Regions from separate parts of the Homo sapiens genome. Here region 1 is linked to region 2. Evidence: fine-mapped expression QTL. Tissue or cell type: cerebellar hemisphere. Region 2 holds a variant in brackets; the other region holds the start of a gene. All regions are shown on one strand. Distances are between the middles of the regions.

Evidence for each region. PIP is the estimated chance that this variant, and not a neighbour inherited with it, causes the effect.
Region 1: VSTM2B-DT starts here. The variant in region 2 is fine-mapped to the expression of VSTM2B-DT in cerebellar hemisphere (GTEx, PIP 0.98).

What each region holds. Positions count from the first base shown.
Region 1 is chr19:29,521,443-29,529,542 of GRCh38, reverse strand. It overlaps VSTM2B-DT (VSTM2B divergent transcript), which reads left to right and starts at 3,793. Exons shown (of 10, transcript NR_040029.2): 1 at 3,793-4,119. VSTM2B (V-set and transmembrane domain containing 2B) reads right to left here and starts at 3,549. Exons shown (of 5, transcript NM_001146339.2): 1 at 2,878-3,549; 2 at 2,148-2,332; 3 at 1,081-1,110. The coding sequence starts at 2,959. LOC124904683 (a long non-coding RNA gene) reads left to right here and starts at 263. Exons shown (of 2, transcript XR_007067215.1): 1 at 263-502.
Region 2 is chr19:29,400,142-29,408,241 of GRCh38, reverse strand. The region is part of intron 3 of VSTM2B-DT (VSTM2B divergent transcript); the gene reads left to right. Among named protein-coding and RNA genes, the nearest start is that of VSTM2B-DT, 120 kb to the left of the region's middle. RefSeq lists enhancers at 3,042-3,211, 2,768-3,394, 3,278-3,447. The variant T/C (reference allele first, on the strand shown) is at 4,344.

The sequences.
Region 1 (8,100 bases), 120 kb before region 2:
ACCAACACTGCTTGTCTTCCCGTAGCTGGCGCTTCAGAAGGGCAGAGTCCACCTCTCCTTCCTCCCTCCTGCACCTTCAGGAAACCCCAGGCTGGATTCCTTGTTCCTTAACTTCCCCACGTCTTTCCCGCCCCGACGCGCTCCAACCGACAGTCCCGCCCCAGCCGGCCCTCCTCACCTCCCGGAGCACGGAGGGCCTGCCCGAATCGCTTCCTAAGGAAAGCCACCCTGTCACCGGACCCCGCCCTTTACAGCTAACACTGTGCTTTCTTAAGAAGGCAAGCAACGCTGAGGCTGCTGCCTGGCTCCCTGGCCACCTGCTACCAACCCGCCTTTCCGCGGGATCTCCAGAAGCCCCCCAGCGAAGTGCTCCTCCCCTGCGCCCCGGTGGGGACTTCGGGAAGTACTGCTCTACGGCTCTCAACAAACACCCAGGGAGCCCTCACCTCTGAACCGAGCCCACGAGGAGGCTTCGTCATCTCCAGGCCTTTCTACGCTCCAGGTGGGAAGCTTGGGCGCATCTCCTCCCAGAGTTAGCAACCCCATGACCCGGGCCCCTCGCAGCCTGGCACAACCACCCCCTACCCCGTCCCCTGCAAGCCTGCAACACCCCGCACCCAGACCCGCAATCCAGGCGGAGGATAAAGGGTTGCAGCGGAGGGCGCAGAGCAGATGCTCAGGGCGGGGCAGAGGGGGCGGGAAGCTGGCGCCACGGTCGCGGCGAGGGCGAGCAGCCGCGCGCTCCCGGTGCTAGGAGGAATGCCCGCAGAGCGGAGGCTGGCAGGCGCGAGAGGCCCTAAGCGCGCAGTCCGACCAAGGGGAGTTTTACAGGTCAGCGCCGAGCCGAATTAGGGGACTCAAGCCTTGGACCCTTGATTTACACAAAAGAGAACCCGACCCTGCAACCGGCGACAGATGGCGCCCGGACACGCCGAGCAGCCACCGATGCAAGGCTGCGATCGCTGCCCTACTTGCGCGGCCCCACATGCGCGGCCGCCGCGGCTTGCTAAGGGAGGGAGCTGCGGGACCCGAGGCGGCCAGAAGGGGTCTCCCGCGGCCCGCGCTGGGCTCCACACTTACGCTGATTTTAGTTGCATCCTTATTTGTTACCTAAAATGCAAAGAGGGAGAGAGAGACGTGAGGCTCGCGGCCTTCTGGCTAGGGGAACTCGGATCCGCCTTTAGGCAAGGGCACCCTCCTCCGGCAGGCTAGGACCGAAACCGCCCGGGGGATGGGGGTTGAGGGCACAAAGGACGTCCGGCTTTCCAAGAGTTTCCCAGGAGGAAGCGGGCTTTGGAGCTAGCATGGTGCCTGACCAACGGGTGGCTGCCCTGGTGCACACCTGCCGGCTGAACTGGGGAGACTGGATGGACACCAGGGTGGGAAGGAAAGCCCCTCTCCTTCCCTCTGGGCATCCTTAGGCCCTGCCGCGTGGCTCAAAATCCTCCCCCAGCTCACTGGGAGCCGTGAAGAACTGGAGGGAGGGCCGCTGTGTCTGGACAGCACCCAGCGGGAGGCTCAGTGGGAGTAACTCTGGGTGGGACCCTGGGAGAATGTAGGTGTGTGTAGGTGTAGGTGTGTGTGTAGGTGTGTGTGCACGCGAGCACACTAGAGTGTGTAAGAGAGTGTGGGTTTTGAGGCAGACAGGCAGCGTGGGCCTGTTTTCGGCCACAGAGAAGTGGCCCCTCTGTGCCCCTGAGGGCTGGAGGTCCTGCCGGCTTTCCGGTACTCGGTTTTCTGGTGGCCTCTGGAACGCAGCCGTGGGAGCCCTGGGGTCCTCAAAGTGGCAGAGGGCGGGGAGAGCCTGATGGGACCAAGGGGGCTTCCTTCACTACCCAGCACCCATCAGAGGGCCGCAGCCAGCGAGCACGAGCAAGCGACCAGGCTGAGGTGTGGCTCTTTAGGGGCTGGGCGTGAATGGAGTTCTGGGAGGTGGTGGGAACAGCGATGCTGTCAAAATAATTGACAGGTTTGGGGGTAACCACTGCTGACTTTGAAGATGCTTTGGGATGCGAAGGTGGAAGATGGGCTGCGCCACAGGGCGGCGCCCTGCGCGAGTGAAGCCCGCTGCTTCCCTCCCTGGGTTAGCCTTCGCCGCCCCGGGCGCGAGCCGGGCGCGCGCCGGTACCGCGTGGGCGGCGGGTTACCTTGCTCCGGGCGCCCGGCACGCTGAGCGCCAGCTCGTGCAGCAGCTCCCGGGGTGGCTCCTTGAGGTACCACCACTGAATCTCCAGCGAATACGAGGTGGCTCCGCTGGCCCGGAACGCGCAGGGCATTTCGATGTCGTCTCCCTCCCGTACTGTCACATCTTTGGGGACTTCTGTGAATGCAGCTGGGGGTGGGGAGAGAGAGAGAGGCGTGACCAGCTGTAGGTCGGGGGCCTGGGGCAACCTAAAGCGAGGCAGTCGGTCTCTGGCTGGCTGGCCTTGTGCCCCCCACCCCGCAGCTGCTCCCTGGCGCACGGCCGGAGGGGCTAGCAAAGTTCGGGGAAGCGGCTGCAGGGCCGAGGCAGGGACCGGCCATCGGCTGCCTACTGCTTCCCTCCGGATGGGGCGGGGCGGCAGGGGCGACTCGTGCTTCTCCCCCGCCCCTGGCCGCACCGCCAGAGCCTGGCTGGGGCGCGCCTACTCCCGCTCCCCGCAGGCATCCTTTCCGCAGCCGGGGCCCCGGCGGGACTGGGAACGACTCGGGCGCGGCGCTGCTGCTGCGGCGACCCTTCGCCGCTCGCCTCTCCCTACCCCTCCGGGCCCAGGCTGCACAGCGGGATTGCTGGAGACCGCGAAGCTTCCCGGTTCGTTCTCTTTCTTCTTCTTCTCGGTGGCGGCCCCAGCAAAGACCCCCCCGAGTCCACAGCGGCAGCAAAGTTCCCGCGCTCACCGTCGGCCACGAAGAGCAGCAGGGCATGCAGCAGCAGAGGCGGCAGGTATCCGAGGGCACCGAGCCGGTTCCGCTGTTCCATCTCCCGCGGGGGGCGCGGTGGCGGCGGGGGCCCGGGAGCGGAGAGGCGGCGGCCGCGTGGGCTCGGATCGGCTCCGGCTCGGGCTAGGACGCCTCCGAGCCTGCCATGGCCCCGCGCGGCGCCCCCTCCCCTGGCCGCCGGCGGCCGCCAATCAGCCCCGCTCCCTCGCCGGCTTGCCCGGTGCGGCTCCGGCGGGGGGCGCTGCGCGGGGTGTGCAGGAGACGCGGTCCCACCGGGAGGCTGCTGGCGATCGGTCAGTGCCTCTCTCTGTCCGGTCGTCCACAGGACGGTGGGGATCCGCGGTTCAGTCTCTGCCCGGCGGGCCGGGCAGGGGCTGGGCCGCGCCGGGACCCATCCCTGGCCGAGGGAGTGCGTGCCACGGAGCCGCGAGCTTCTGCCTCCCTGTCTCCTTCTGGTTCTGCTCCCGATTGCCACCTCCTTCGGCTCCCGCAGCCGCCCCCGCCGGTTCCTCCGCGGCTCTTTCCGCAGGGCGAGTGGGCGCTCAGCCGCGGCGCGCAGACCTGGCGTCCGACCCAGCGCAGCGCGGGGAGAGCGGGTCCGGCGTGGCGGACCCGGAGCCGGAGAGAGGCGGGGAGAGGGGGAGGGGAGGGGAAGGGAGGGGGCGGTCAGTGGCTGGGCGCCAAGCCGCCTCCACCGCTGCATCGCCCCCGCCCTCCCCTCTCCTGCCACAGCCCGCCCCGCCCCCGCCCCAGAGCGCTCCCCCTCTCTCCTCGGGGGTCGCTCGGAGGGACCACCGTCTTTCTGGTTGGAGTACAGCCCCGCCCCGCACCCGCTTGGGTTGGGAGTCCTCCCACCCAAACTCTCCCTGGCTTCTTCCCAGTCTGCACGGCTCGAGACGGCCGCTCATCCCTGCTCCCCGTGTGTCCCTCGGTCCTCTCTGCAGCTCCCAGCCCTCAACTCCTTACCCCAGTTTGGGCAACCAGCTGCCCCGCTGTTTGGCCCAGGCCTGGGCCATGACGGATGGGTGGGCGCCCGGGGCCGCGAGAAGGGCGGAACGCTGTGCCCAGCCGGAGACTACGCTGGGTGGCGGCGGCAGCGCCGGGAGTCTGCAGTGCGCGAGGGAGAAGTGAGCGCACAGCGCCCAGCGAGCAGGTGCCTGCGGCGCGGAGAGCGCACACGCTAGCCAGCCCGCAGCGGCCGTGAGTGACGGCAGGGGCGGCGGGGGTGGGGTGGGGTGGGGAGCGCCGGGCACGACTCAGGGCCCGGGAGGTTTCCGGGAGGGGGCGGGGTTCCTGCCCCTGGATCGCGGGTCCCTGTGTCTCCACGCGCTCTTCGCCGGTCGTGGCCCCTTCTTTGCCCGGTGCAAAGCGAGATGCCGAGGCGGCAGGAAGCCGGAACCCATCCCCCGCCTGCTCTGGCGTACTCGGCATCCCGGTACCTCCCCCAGCCTTCACCCGGAGTCTGCTCCCTCCCCAGCCATCTGAGGGAGCGCGGTCTGGTCCCCGAAGGCAAATGCGGGGTGGACATGTGGTTCGGACGCAGCGCGTAGTCATAGTCATAGGGGCGAGTCCTAAGGCTCGCCTTGGGTCTCTCCTATCTCCTTCCCCCGGGAGTCCCCAGCTAGTGCGTTTCGGCACCTCTGCCCCTACCCCGGCCCCTACGCCTCAGCTCTGACCTCAGGTTGGGGTGGGGCAGCCCGGTGGATTCACGTGCCTGCTTCCCCGGCTACCAGCCTCCCGGAGGCACCGCCAGAGGATTCCCTGGGAGCCAAGGAGAAGGAAACCCAGAGGGAAAACACTCTCCAGCAGCCACCCTGGTCCAGGCGGCCAGCGCAGCACAGCTCAGAGGGGAGGAGCTGCAGGCCCTCTCCAAGGCTGTCCTCGCCAGCGGGTGCCCGGGGCCAGCCCTTCTTGCCTCCAGTGCCTGCCTTTCAGTTTCCTCGTCTATGGCCCAGGAGTCACTCCCACCCCCTGGCTCACTGTGGCTCATCTATCAAGCCCTTGTTTTCTAAGGTCTCCTGCTGGGGGCAAAGGGAAGAAGGGGGTCCTATAGGACTTTCCTCCTTTCCCTCAAGTTCCTCTCTAGGGGCTCCACAGAGGCAGTTGCCAGCTCCTTCTGTCATGGCAGGAGCTTTTCCTAGGAAATCCCATGTGCCCTTAGAAACCACTTTGGACCCCCGAATGTAAGACCCTGCCAGGCCCCATTGCTGTCCTCAGCTTCTGAAGGGAGAGGGCAGACTTGCACCGCTCTATGCAGATTCAGGACCACAGCGGGGTTCCAGGAAAGCAGGCTCATTTGGGGACTGATTCCAAGCAGGGTTCTGAAGAAAGAGCTAGCCCACTGCGCAGTGGCCCACCTGGAGAGGTAGCAGTCTCCTTTCCTGATGCCAGATCCAAGCAGAGGCTAATGCTGGAGACCAGCGATGCCCGTGGGAGAATCCCTGTAGCTAGAGGGAATTATCTGGAAGTAATTTATCCCTGTACCGCCTTGTGGGGTTGGGTGTTTCTTGCCCACTGCATGAGTTGGTATTACTCTAAGAGCGACAGATACATGTTTTCACATGCTTTCCATGTACTAGACACTTTCTAGGCATCAGTTCTCAACATGACAAAGAGATCCTTCTCAGGGAAATCAGATCCCTCTTCCACTGCTGAAAAACCCCACAGTGGCTCCCATTTCACTTGGCATAAACACCAGTGGCCTTGCAGTGGCTGCCAAGGTCAAACCATCTGCCTTTCTGCTTCCTGCTCACCCTTTTCCTTCATCTTCTCATCTTTTCTGTCTTCTCCATAGCTCACACTCCCCTAGCCACACTGTTCTCCTTCCTACAATGCAGCACACTGGGCATGCTTCTACCCCAGGGCCCTTGCACCAGCCGCACCATCTGGTTGACATGCTTCTCCCACAGATACTTGCTTGGCTAACTCCGTTGTGCTCTGGTTTTTGTCAAGCAGTCACCTTCTCCATGAGGCCCACCTGGGCCACCATATTTAACACTGCAGTCTACACTGCCTCTCCTCCCACCACCCAGCACTCCCAGGCCCTCACTCTGCTTCCTTTATTTTTTCCATTTCGCCAGCCATCTTCCAACACATGGGACCACATCCTTATTTATTGAGTGTCTTGTTGCAGGTCTCTAAGACTGTGCCTGCCTTGTTCACTGATGTATCTCTAGCGCCTACAACAGGGTCGGGCACAGAGTAGGAGCTCAGTAAATACTTGTGGAATGAATGAATGAGCTCATTTTACCTCAATCACAACTCCAGGGGTAGACATGGTGATTTCACTCCATTTTATGGTTGAAGCTCAGAAGCTTACGGAACTTGCCCAAGGTCACATAGTTAGTAAGTGGCTGAGTGACGCATCAACCCAAAGCCTGTCTTACTCTGGGGTCCTGGATCTTAACCAAAACACTAAGCTCTTCCCTCCTCCAGGTGAGCCCCTGGTCCTGATGCCTCGAGTTGGTGTGGAGAGCAAGGCCCTACCCTTGACTGATGGGAGCAAGGAGCAGCCTGAGCTAGACTTGTAGTCTCTTTCCTGTCTGTTCAGCTTGGTCTATCTGTTTTCTGCCCTGCCTTGTAGACTGTGATGAGAGCAGCTGACCCACCTTCACTATGGTTTTTTTTTTTTTTTTTTTTGACACGGTCTTTTTCTGTTGTCCAGGCTGGAGTGCAGTGGCACGATCTTAGCTCACTGCACCTCAACGTCCTGAGCTCAAGCACCTCAGCCTCCAGAGTTATCATGCTGACACCAGGAGGATTAGCCCACCATGCCTTGCTAATATATATATATTTTTTTTGTAGAGATGGGGTGTTGCTATGTTGCCTAGGCTGGTCTTGAACCCCTGGGCTCAAGCGATCCTTCTGCCTCAGCCTTCCAAGTAGCTAGGACTACAGGCATGCACCATCACACTTGGCTAATTTTGTGCTTAAAATTTTTGTAGAGGTGAGTTCTTGCTCTGTTGCCCAGGTTGGTCTTGAACCCCTGGGCTCAAGCCATCTTCGTGTCTCAGCCTTCTAAGTAGCTGAGACTACAGGCATGCGCCACCATACCCAGCTAATTTTTAAAATGTTTTTTGTAGAGATGGGGTCTTGCTGTTGCCCAGGCTGGTCTTGAATGCCTGGGCTCAAGCGATCCTTCTGCCTCAGCCTTCCAAGTAGCTAGGACTGCAGCCATGCACCACTATACCTGGCTAATTTTGTTTAAAATTTTTTGTAGAGGTGAGGTCTTGCTGTGTTGCCCAGGTTGGTCTTGAACCCCTGGGCTCAAGCCATCTTCCTGTCTCAGCCTTCTAAGTAGCTAGGACTACAGGCATGCGCCACCATACCCAGCTAATGTTTTATTTTTAATATTTTTTGTAGAGATGGGGTCTTGCTGTGTTGTGCAGGCTGGTCTCAAACTCCTGGCCTCAAACAGTCCTCCTGCCTCTGCCTCCCAAAGCACTGGGATTATAGGAGTGAGCCACCACACTGGCTTTCTCTGTGTCTTTAACTCCCAGCTGGGCCTGCCCATAGTTAGAGCCTAGCAAATATTCGGACAGGGAACCCTGCTAGGAGCACTTTGCCTCCCTTTTGCTGTGGGTTTTCTGTGAGCAGGGCAGGGATTTTGTCTCTTCGACTTAGCCCTTTGGCTAGTTGGAGGATTAGTGAGCTAAGACCAGACTGCAGCTCCTGCCAGTCAGAGGGCACTGGGTTCCTTCCCTGCCAGTCTCTGCCAAGCCTGGCTCCCCACTCCCTGCAGGGGAGCCATTTCCTTCTCACTAAGTCCTGGTGGGATGTGGTCTCTCAGTTGGAGACTCTAAAGAAGGTGGCTGGGGAGGAGCATGCGTGTCACTTCTCCCAAAGGGACACTAAGCTCTGCGGACACAGCCATTCAGGTCTACCTACTGTGGTATCTCTTGGGCTCCTACAAAGATGACCTGTTTGCAGTGAATCGTGGTTATGTGAAGCTATGGACTTGAGAGTATTTCATGATCATTTTGTTTCTAGTCCTGATTAATCATCAATGGGAACTAACACGGTTTTCCCCTCCCTCCATCCACAGCTATAAAATGCCTGTGGGGTCGCTGTGCACAGAGACCTGGAGGCAGATCCTCTTGTAATGTGGTTGATGGGGCCATGGGTTGGCTGCCCTGCCCAGTTGGCTGTGCCCGGGGGGCTTGCTTCTGCCAGGGCCTGGCT
Region 2 (8,100 bases):
GAGTGGGCTCTTTCTGGCAGTCACAGGAGTGGGTTCTGATTCCAGGCAGGCTTGCTGTATCTTCTTGGCAGATGCCGTCTGGATCCTTAGGAGCTGCAGGGTGGATGGCAACAAGGTCTGGACGTCACTGGGCAGTGAAGCGGGGGCCTGGTTGGCCAAGCCATTGCCTGATGGGGATACCAAAGAGGGGTCTAGACAGGGAACTGCAGGTCCTCCCCATTCTGCCATCCTCTTATGGTCCAGGGGTATGAAGCCTTCCAGCCACACAATCTCGAGGACAGAACTCGAGCATGTTGGCCCTAAAAGCCCCTCTTTCCACCACCCCACTGCAAAGATTAGGTCCAACTCTCTGAAGGTTATTGAGGCGGAGAGGCAAGTGCCAAGGGCTCTGGATTTTGCATCTGGGAGACCTTAGGCTGGTACCTTCTTCTCACTGGGCCTCAGTTTCCCCCTGAGTCAGATGAGAGGGTTGGACCAGATGGTAACAGGCTTTTCATCTGTGGCTTGCTTGTGACCATCAAAAAAAGCAAAAACACGTTAAAGCCTCGCCAGTCATCATTTTCCAAGTTTCCCCTGGATTTTTCCATCGGAAGACAAAACGTGATGAGACCATATGTCAGGCTAATTGTTCCCCAAACAGAATTTAAACATTTGAATATGCTTGCAACAGGGAAGGGCAGGAAAGAAAATGGTGTTGCAGGGGGTGGAGGTAGTAGAGTCTGGCTCTGTCCCTGGGATGTGCTACAGGGGTACCCTTGCCTTCAGGGCCATGGGGCTGCCTGGGGCAGCAAGAGGTCTGTCAAACTGTATGAAAGGTCAAGGCTGGTGGGCCATGGTTATAAAGTCCACCCACCCACTCACTCTACAGGTAACAGCAGAGCACTCAGCTGAAGCCTGGCCCAGCCCTGGGTGCTGGGAACCTGAGGATCAGGGAGGGAGACAGCTGAGGTCCTTGCTGCTTTGGAGCTCCCAGGTCAGCAGGAGAGACAAGTGCCAGGATGGAAGGGGCCACACAGGGGCTGGGGGTGCCAGTTGAGGATTAGGGGAGGCCTAAGGGATCGGGGGAGCCAGGTAACAAGGAGGAAGGGGCAAGCATTTCTGGAAGAGAAGGCAGAGAGTGTGAGGGCCAGGGTGGGAGCAGTGTGGCCACTGGTCCTGTAGAAGGCTTGTCGCATCAGAACCAGAGGGGTGCTGGGGAGAGGGGCACAGGGTTGGGGGGCCGGAGGGGTGGCTGGGGGTCCCATCACCTGTGGCGGGTGGGCTGCCTTGTCTGGGCCCTGCAAGTGATGAGGAGGGGCTGACAGCCTGCAGCAGGGGGGTGACAGGACACCTCTGGGCTTCTGTCCCAGCTCTGTGCCTTCCCCTGATGTGTGGTCAGGTACACGGAGGAGGTGCACCCCAGGGAGGGCCGTGAGTGGAGTTATTCCTCACATCCTTTTTTTTTGCATTTATTATTATTTTTAGTTGACCATAATAATTCTACACATTCATTAGGTACAGTGATATTTTAATACATGTAGAAATGTGTAATAATCAAATCAGGGTAATTAGCATATCCATCACCTCAAACATTTATTATTTCTTTGGGTTGGGAACATTCAAAATTCGTTCTTGCAGCTATTTGAAAATATACAATACATTGTGTTAATGATAGTCATCTTACAGTGTTATAGAACACTAGAACTTATTCCTCCTGTCTAGATGTAGTTCTATAGCCATTAAGCCATCTCTGGCTGTCCTCCCACCCTTCCCTGCTTCTGGTCATCACTATTCTACCCTGTTCTTTTTTTTTTTTCATTAGAGACAAGGTCTTTCTTGGTCACCCAGGTTGGAGTGCAGTGGTGTGATCATGGCTCATTGCAGCCTCCAACTCCCGGGCTCCAGCGATCGTCCCGCCTTGGCCTCCCCAGTAGCTGTGACTACAGGCATGCATCCCACCACTACCAGCAAATTAAAAAAAAAAACAAAACTTTTTGTAGAGACGGGGTCCCACTATGCTGCCCAGGCTGGTCTCGAAATCCTGGGCTCAAGGGACCTCCTACCTCGACCTCGCAAAGTGCTGCGGTTACAGGTATGAGCCACAGCACCCAACTCGCTACTTCTATGCGATCGACTTTTTCAGCTCCCACATGAGTGAGATCATGAGCTATTTGTCTTTCTGTTCCTGGCTTTTTTCACTTAGCATAACATTCTCTAAACATCCTTGCTGCCGAGAATGACCATGAAGAGGTGAGCGGATAGATAAAACGTGGTATTAATATACACACACAGTGGAACACTGTTCATCCACATCCTCTTGTTGCAGGCTCAGGGAGGTGAGCGGGTGGGGAATTGATGCCGGGACCCGGGGAGGCAGCAGCGGACGTGGGCTCAGAACCCACGCCTGTGGTCTCCTGGCTCCCCGTGGCCCCCTCTTCAGAGCACTGGGCTGCGACCTGCACCCTCTGGTGTGGCGCGGCTGCCACAAATGGTTTGAATGGAGGGTGCTGAGAAGGGAGGGAGCATCCATCTCTGGTCCGGGATAGAGGAAACTGACGCAGGCCTCAGCTACACGGAGCTTCCCCAGCAAGGCAGGGCCTGGGCTTGGCAGGTGCTGCACCAGAGGAGTCTGAAGCCGAGGCAGGTGCCCGCCAAGCCTTCCAGGGACGGGGACAGGGAGGTGGGGAGCCGAGGGGTTCACTGCAGGCCCAGGAGCAAAGGCTACAGATGAATCTGGTGACTGTAAAACCTCAGGGACCAAGCGTTCGAACAGCCCCACCAGGGCAGATCGGGGACCAGGAAAGGCTGGGGACGGCTCAGGGGCCTGTCTGCCAGGCTGCGCTGCCTCTCCCACTCCCGTTAGCGCTGTCCCACCCCGCTGCGAGGCGAGCTGGAGGAGGGCTGACAGATGCATTCAAATATGGCTTGGTTCAAAGAATGAGCTTAATTAGGCATTTAAGCCCGTGGTTGTGAGTCCAGAGTTTTCCGATTTGGCGTGCGGTCTGGAATGTTGTGGAGCTCGTTTACAGAGGAGGAGCCAGAGAGTGGAAAGGGGTGAAGCAGATGGTCACATTGTTAGGCCTTACCCGCCCCTCCCAGCGCTCGAGGGAGAGGCGAGGTCCATTCCCCAGGCTGCTGGGCTCAAGTGGTGCGCGCCTCACTGTGCGGAGCTCTCAGTCCCGGGCCTGGCCCTGGACCCAGGACAGGGAGACTATCCAGACCTCCGGCACGCCCTGGGGTCTCCCAGAAGGTCAGGCTGGGAGGGCCTGCGGCACTGTACTCCAATGATCTGGGGCCACTGTCACACAGCAGGGAGCCTCTTAGTGACCTCTGTGGCACAGACAGCAGCCTCCCGGCACCGCCCCCTCCCCAGGCCGGACCTGCCTCCCAGGGACCCCCAGCCACTATCCAGGACCTGGAGAAGGCTGTCGACTTGGCAGCCCTAGAGAGGGAAGGCTGCAGCATAGTATCTTGGTCCTGGGCTCAGGGGATATCAAGAGCCATGGCTGGGACCTAGAGGGTTTCCAGGAGGTGCGAGTGTGGCCAGGGAGGAGAGTAGGCACCCCTCAGCAGAAGTGCAAGTGGCCTCCTCGCCCCTCCCTGCCCTGGACCCGCATTTTCTTCTCTGCCTGTTCTTCGGTTGCCCCTTCCTGTCTTTCCTCTCGGAGTCTCTCTTCTGCCTCCATTTCCATTACTCTTCGCCCCTATCGCTGCTTCCTTTTCTCTGCCTCTCCCAGTCTCTCTAGCTTCAGGCCAATCCAGGCCCATTTTTTTCTCCTTCCTCTACCTCCCAGCCTGGTGTCCAAGCCCTTTCCACTCAGCCCTCCTCCCCGGCATGTCCATGGGCCTCTCATCACCAGCACATTTCTGCTTCCAGCCTTTGCTCACCTAGAACGCCCTCGCACTCCTCTCTGCCTGTCCACAGCCACACGTTTCTGTGCCCCCACTTCTTGCTTCCTGGCATCCTTCTGGCAGGGCCAGCATGCCGGGCTCTGAGGAGGGGGCCTGTGCACCTGCCCAGCGGCACCTGCCACCCTGCAGCACCCGCCCAGCAGCACCTGCCTCTCCCGCTGAGTGCAGAGCAGCGTATCCAGCATCATCCTGCACAAAGACAGCTCCCTGCTGAGGAGGTGCTTGGGTGCTGTGGTTGAAATGATGACCCCCATTCAGTGGACACACAGATTCCAACAAGCCCCATGAGGGAGGAATGAAATGCTGCAGAAGCCCAGAGCTGGAGGCACTCCTGGGGAGTCACCGGGGCCCAGCCTCCTGCCACCAGCTGAAAGGGGAGCACGTGGAAGGCGGGCCTCGTTCCCTCCAGCACAGCTCACCAACTTACCCGTGCTTCTCAGAAAAGCCATGCG[T/C]CTCACCAACAATGCACTCAGCTGCTGCCACCTGGGAGGGCTGCCCCCAGGAGTGGCTCATGCAGCTCGACCCTGCCCCTGGGCCCTTCCATCTGGGGCTTGTAGCTGAACCTACCCTAGCTCTCTTCATGCGTGGGGTCTCCGAATGAATGGTGTGATGCTTTCTGAGTTTCAGCCACTCTGAGAAGGACTGCCTCCGAGGTGCCTTCAAAGTCCTCAAGGAGGGCAGTGTGGGCACCACAGAGCGCCCAGGCTGCTTTGAGTGGGAACACCACAGATGCAGCCCTGATCTAAGACCCGCTGGCTGCCTTGTGATGGGGCAGGGCGTGGGGGGCAGACAGACAGAAGTTTGTTTTATTTACATAGACACTCGAAGATGCAGAACGCTGAGTTCCTGGTGAAAGAGACCCTGCCTTTGGCAGGGCTGAGACTTGCCAGAGATGGGACTCACCACTTCTGGCTTGGGTGGGAAGAGTCTCTGGGGCCTGTGGCTTGGGCAGAGGGCAGCCCAGGGTGCCCCAGGCCCAGCCTTCCTTCTCCAGGGCACTCATGTCTTCCAGGGGCCACCTGTGCCTGCCACTGCCTGGTGCCCCACAGGGCCTGTGTTGTGAATCGGGGTGTTTTTTTTTTTTTTGAGACGGAGTCTCGCTCTGTCGCCCAGGCCGGACTGCGGACTGCAGTGGCGCAATCTCGGCTCACTGCAAGCTCCGCTTCCCGGGTTCACGCCATTCTCCTGCCTCAGCCTCCCGAGTAGCTGGGACTACAGGCGCCCGCCACCGCGCCCGGCTAATTTTTTGTATTTTTAGTAGAGACGGGGTTTCACCTTGTTAGCCAGGATGGTCTCGATCTCCTGACCTCATGATCCACCCGCCTCGGCCTCCCAAAGTGCTGGGATTACAGGCGAATCAGGGTGTTTAAATCACCACCTGCTTCTGGGGACTGTGCAACTCCACAGGAAGGCAATGTTGCCCCTTACCTGCCAGCCCTGTTATGAGTGGGAGGGGCCTCTGGCCTCCATCACAGACAGAGGGGCTGAGGCCCAGAGTGGGCACGCGTCCAGGTGCAAGCCTGGAGAGCTGGCTGTGCTGGAGGGCAGCCTCTTTTTCTGCGATTTGGCTGTGGGGTTGCTGGGAGCACAAGGCAGTTCTGAGGATGGATGGGCAGGGTTCCAGCTGCTCAATCTGTCATTGCAAATCAGTGCTCCCTCGATGTCACTGGGCTTCTGAGGGGTCTGCTGGAGGGGCCAGTGCCTAAGTGGAGGGGGAGGGGAGCACAGCCGAGGGGCTCTTGGGGGGACTCGGTGGGTCCCTCCTGACACCCAATGCTGAGGCCTCCCAGGAGTGGCGGGTGTCCTGCAGGCACAGGGCAGGGGCCACTCTGCATCTCAGCTCTGTGCTCACCCATGGCTGGGTCTTGGCCAAGTTGTTTAACTGCCTTGGCCTCCTCCTGACCTATGAGAGGCTGATCATCACATGGTAAGTGAGATCCTTCACTTAGCCGTGCCTGGCCCACAGGAAGCATTCAGCAAACAACTGCCATCCCTGTCACTGATATTCTCACTAAAGGCTCCCGCTGGGCACTGACGGAGCCATGACTGGGTCCACAGCAGCTCTCATTTGGACACAAGCTCGGCTCCAGCCCATCTCAACTAACAGCAGAAGGAGAGGAAAGAGGCTGCCTTACAGCATGATGGATGGAGGTTAGATACGTAGGGGACTTCCCGATGGGGTGGCCCTCTGAGAAAGATTCTGTCCAGCACTCTTTGAGGGCAAGAGGGGTCATGGTGGGAGGAAGGCCAAAATGACCAAGGTGTACCCCCCAACACCCAGCACTCCTTTCTACACCAGGTCCTCCTCAACGGGAGAGGTGAGATGCGCTCAGGGTCTGGGCAGCTCCCTGGAGGCTCCTTTGTCTCAGCTGGGACAGGAGGGCATTTGAGGAGGGCTGGCTCCTATTTGGCTCCAGCTGTGCCCCCACCCTGCAGAAGCTGGCCAGGCTTGCGGGTGGGGGTGAGGCTTTTGGAGATCTCTCAGCCAGGAGGAGTGGGAGGAGAGCAGGGTGGACACGCTGGCTGGTCTAGAGCAAAGTGAGCTCCAGAGAGCTGAGTCAGCCTCGGGAGCAGGCGCTCGGCCAGTGGGCACCTGTACTCTGGCCTCGCACCCCTTAGGCACTCCATCTTGGGATTCCTGATGTCATCTATTTTGTCACGCAGGATATGGGGGGTCCTGGGAGGAGAGTCTGTTAACACCAGGCCTGGCAGGAGGTTCCGGAGGCCCCTGTGAGTTCTGTGTTCTGGACACACGGTGATGCAGCTGGAGGCCGCTGCCCGGTAGGGGCGGTGGGGGCATGTCTGGCTCAGGAGCCTGGTGACCATGCAGAGCGTGGGCTGGGCGCCACCTCCTCCACTCCACTCTGCTGCCTCCCACTCTGGGCTGTCTGGAAGCTTAATGTGCCTGGGTCTTCCCCATGGGGAATCTGGAACCCAGAGAGGTTGGGTGACCCGTGAGAGGTGAGCTCCCAGCTCAGAGAGACTTGAAGCTGCTCCTGCCCCCCCGGACTCTGTGTGTGATGAACATGCATCGCCTGAGAGATGAAAGAGCAGCGCCCTGCCTCCTGTTTCTGTCTCCCGATGTGAGAAACACGTTTCTCCTCCTACTCACTGTCATCCCCAGAGACAGGGTTTGGTGCGTGGGAGGCACAGACCTGTGGACTCAGTTTGTGGTGTGGTTTTGTTACTGTTACTGTCTCCTGCTGGTGACAGGATCCCAGGCCAGCAGCACGGAATTCTGCCCATCTCCCATGCCCAGAGGCCGGGCGGACTTTCAGGCCAGGCCGTGTGGGTACCGATGCTGCTGCGGGAGGCCGTGAGAGCCTCTCAGGGGCTGTGTCTCCTGTCCTTTTTTCCCTTGTGCCCAGTGGGAGCTCCTTGAGAGCAGAGACTGTGTGACTCATTGTAACCCCACGGCCAAGCACTCAGCACACTGCAGACCCTGTCCCCACCATGCCCACATCTGCTTGGCACCCATCATTCCCATGCCCACTGTGGCCCTTTCTCCCAAGGGCCTCTTTTGGAACAAGAGTGGGCTTGGTCTGTGTGGGGCAGCCCAGGAGTTTTGGTGACTCCATGCCCCCAGGAGCCAAGGATGGACCAGAGCGGGTCCATGCATCCTCCAGCCCACCTGCCCCCAGGGGGACAGCCTAAGGCCTGCCCTGCCCACCTCCCCAGTATGCCCTCAGCAGCAGCCTGCTCATTGTCACACCTGTCCTGGCTGCTGTCCCTTTCCTCCCGCGTGGGTGTTTCCCAGGATCACCATCTACACTGCCTGCTTGGGTCCAAGTCCTTACCGTAGGGTCTGGCCTGGGGAAGTTTGCAGAATGCTGGGGGATGAGTGCGGGGCTCAAGGGACAGACATGTGAAAGGAAAATCCAATCTTAGGGCCCCAGACTCACTATGCCAAGGGAAAAGGGAAGCTTGGAAACTGAGTCCTTCTTTTCTTCTCTGAAGAGATAGCTGCAGTGATAGAAGGCCATACGTCTCCCCAGGTGGCTTTCCTCACTGATTAATCACAAGGGAATTCCTTGTGGGCCCCCAGATCTTTCAGAATCCGCATGTCCCCTCTAAACTAGCTCTCAAATGAGTTCTGTGGAATCTGACGCTGACAACGTCAATGACCAGCTCACCTTCACAGCTATGGGACAAAGACGGGCCGAGACATTCCTCCACTCACCCTGAGACAAACGCATCTGGCTTCTTTCT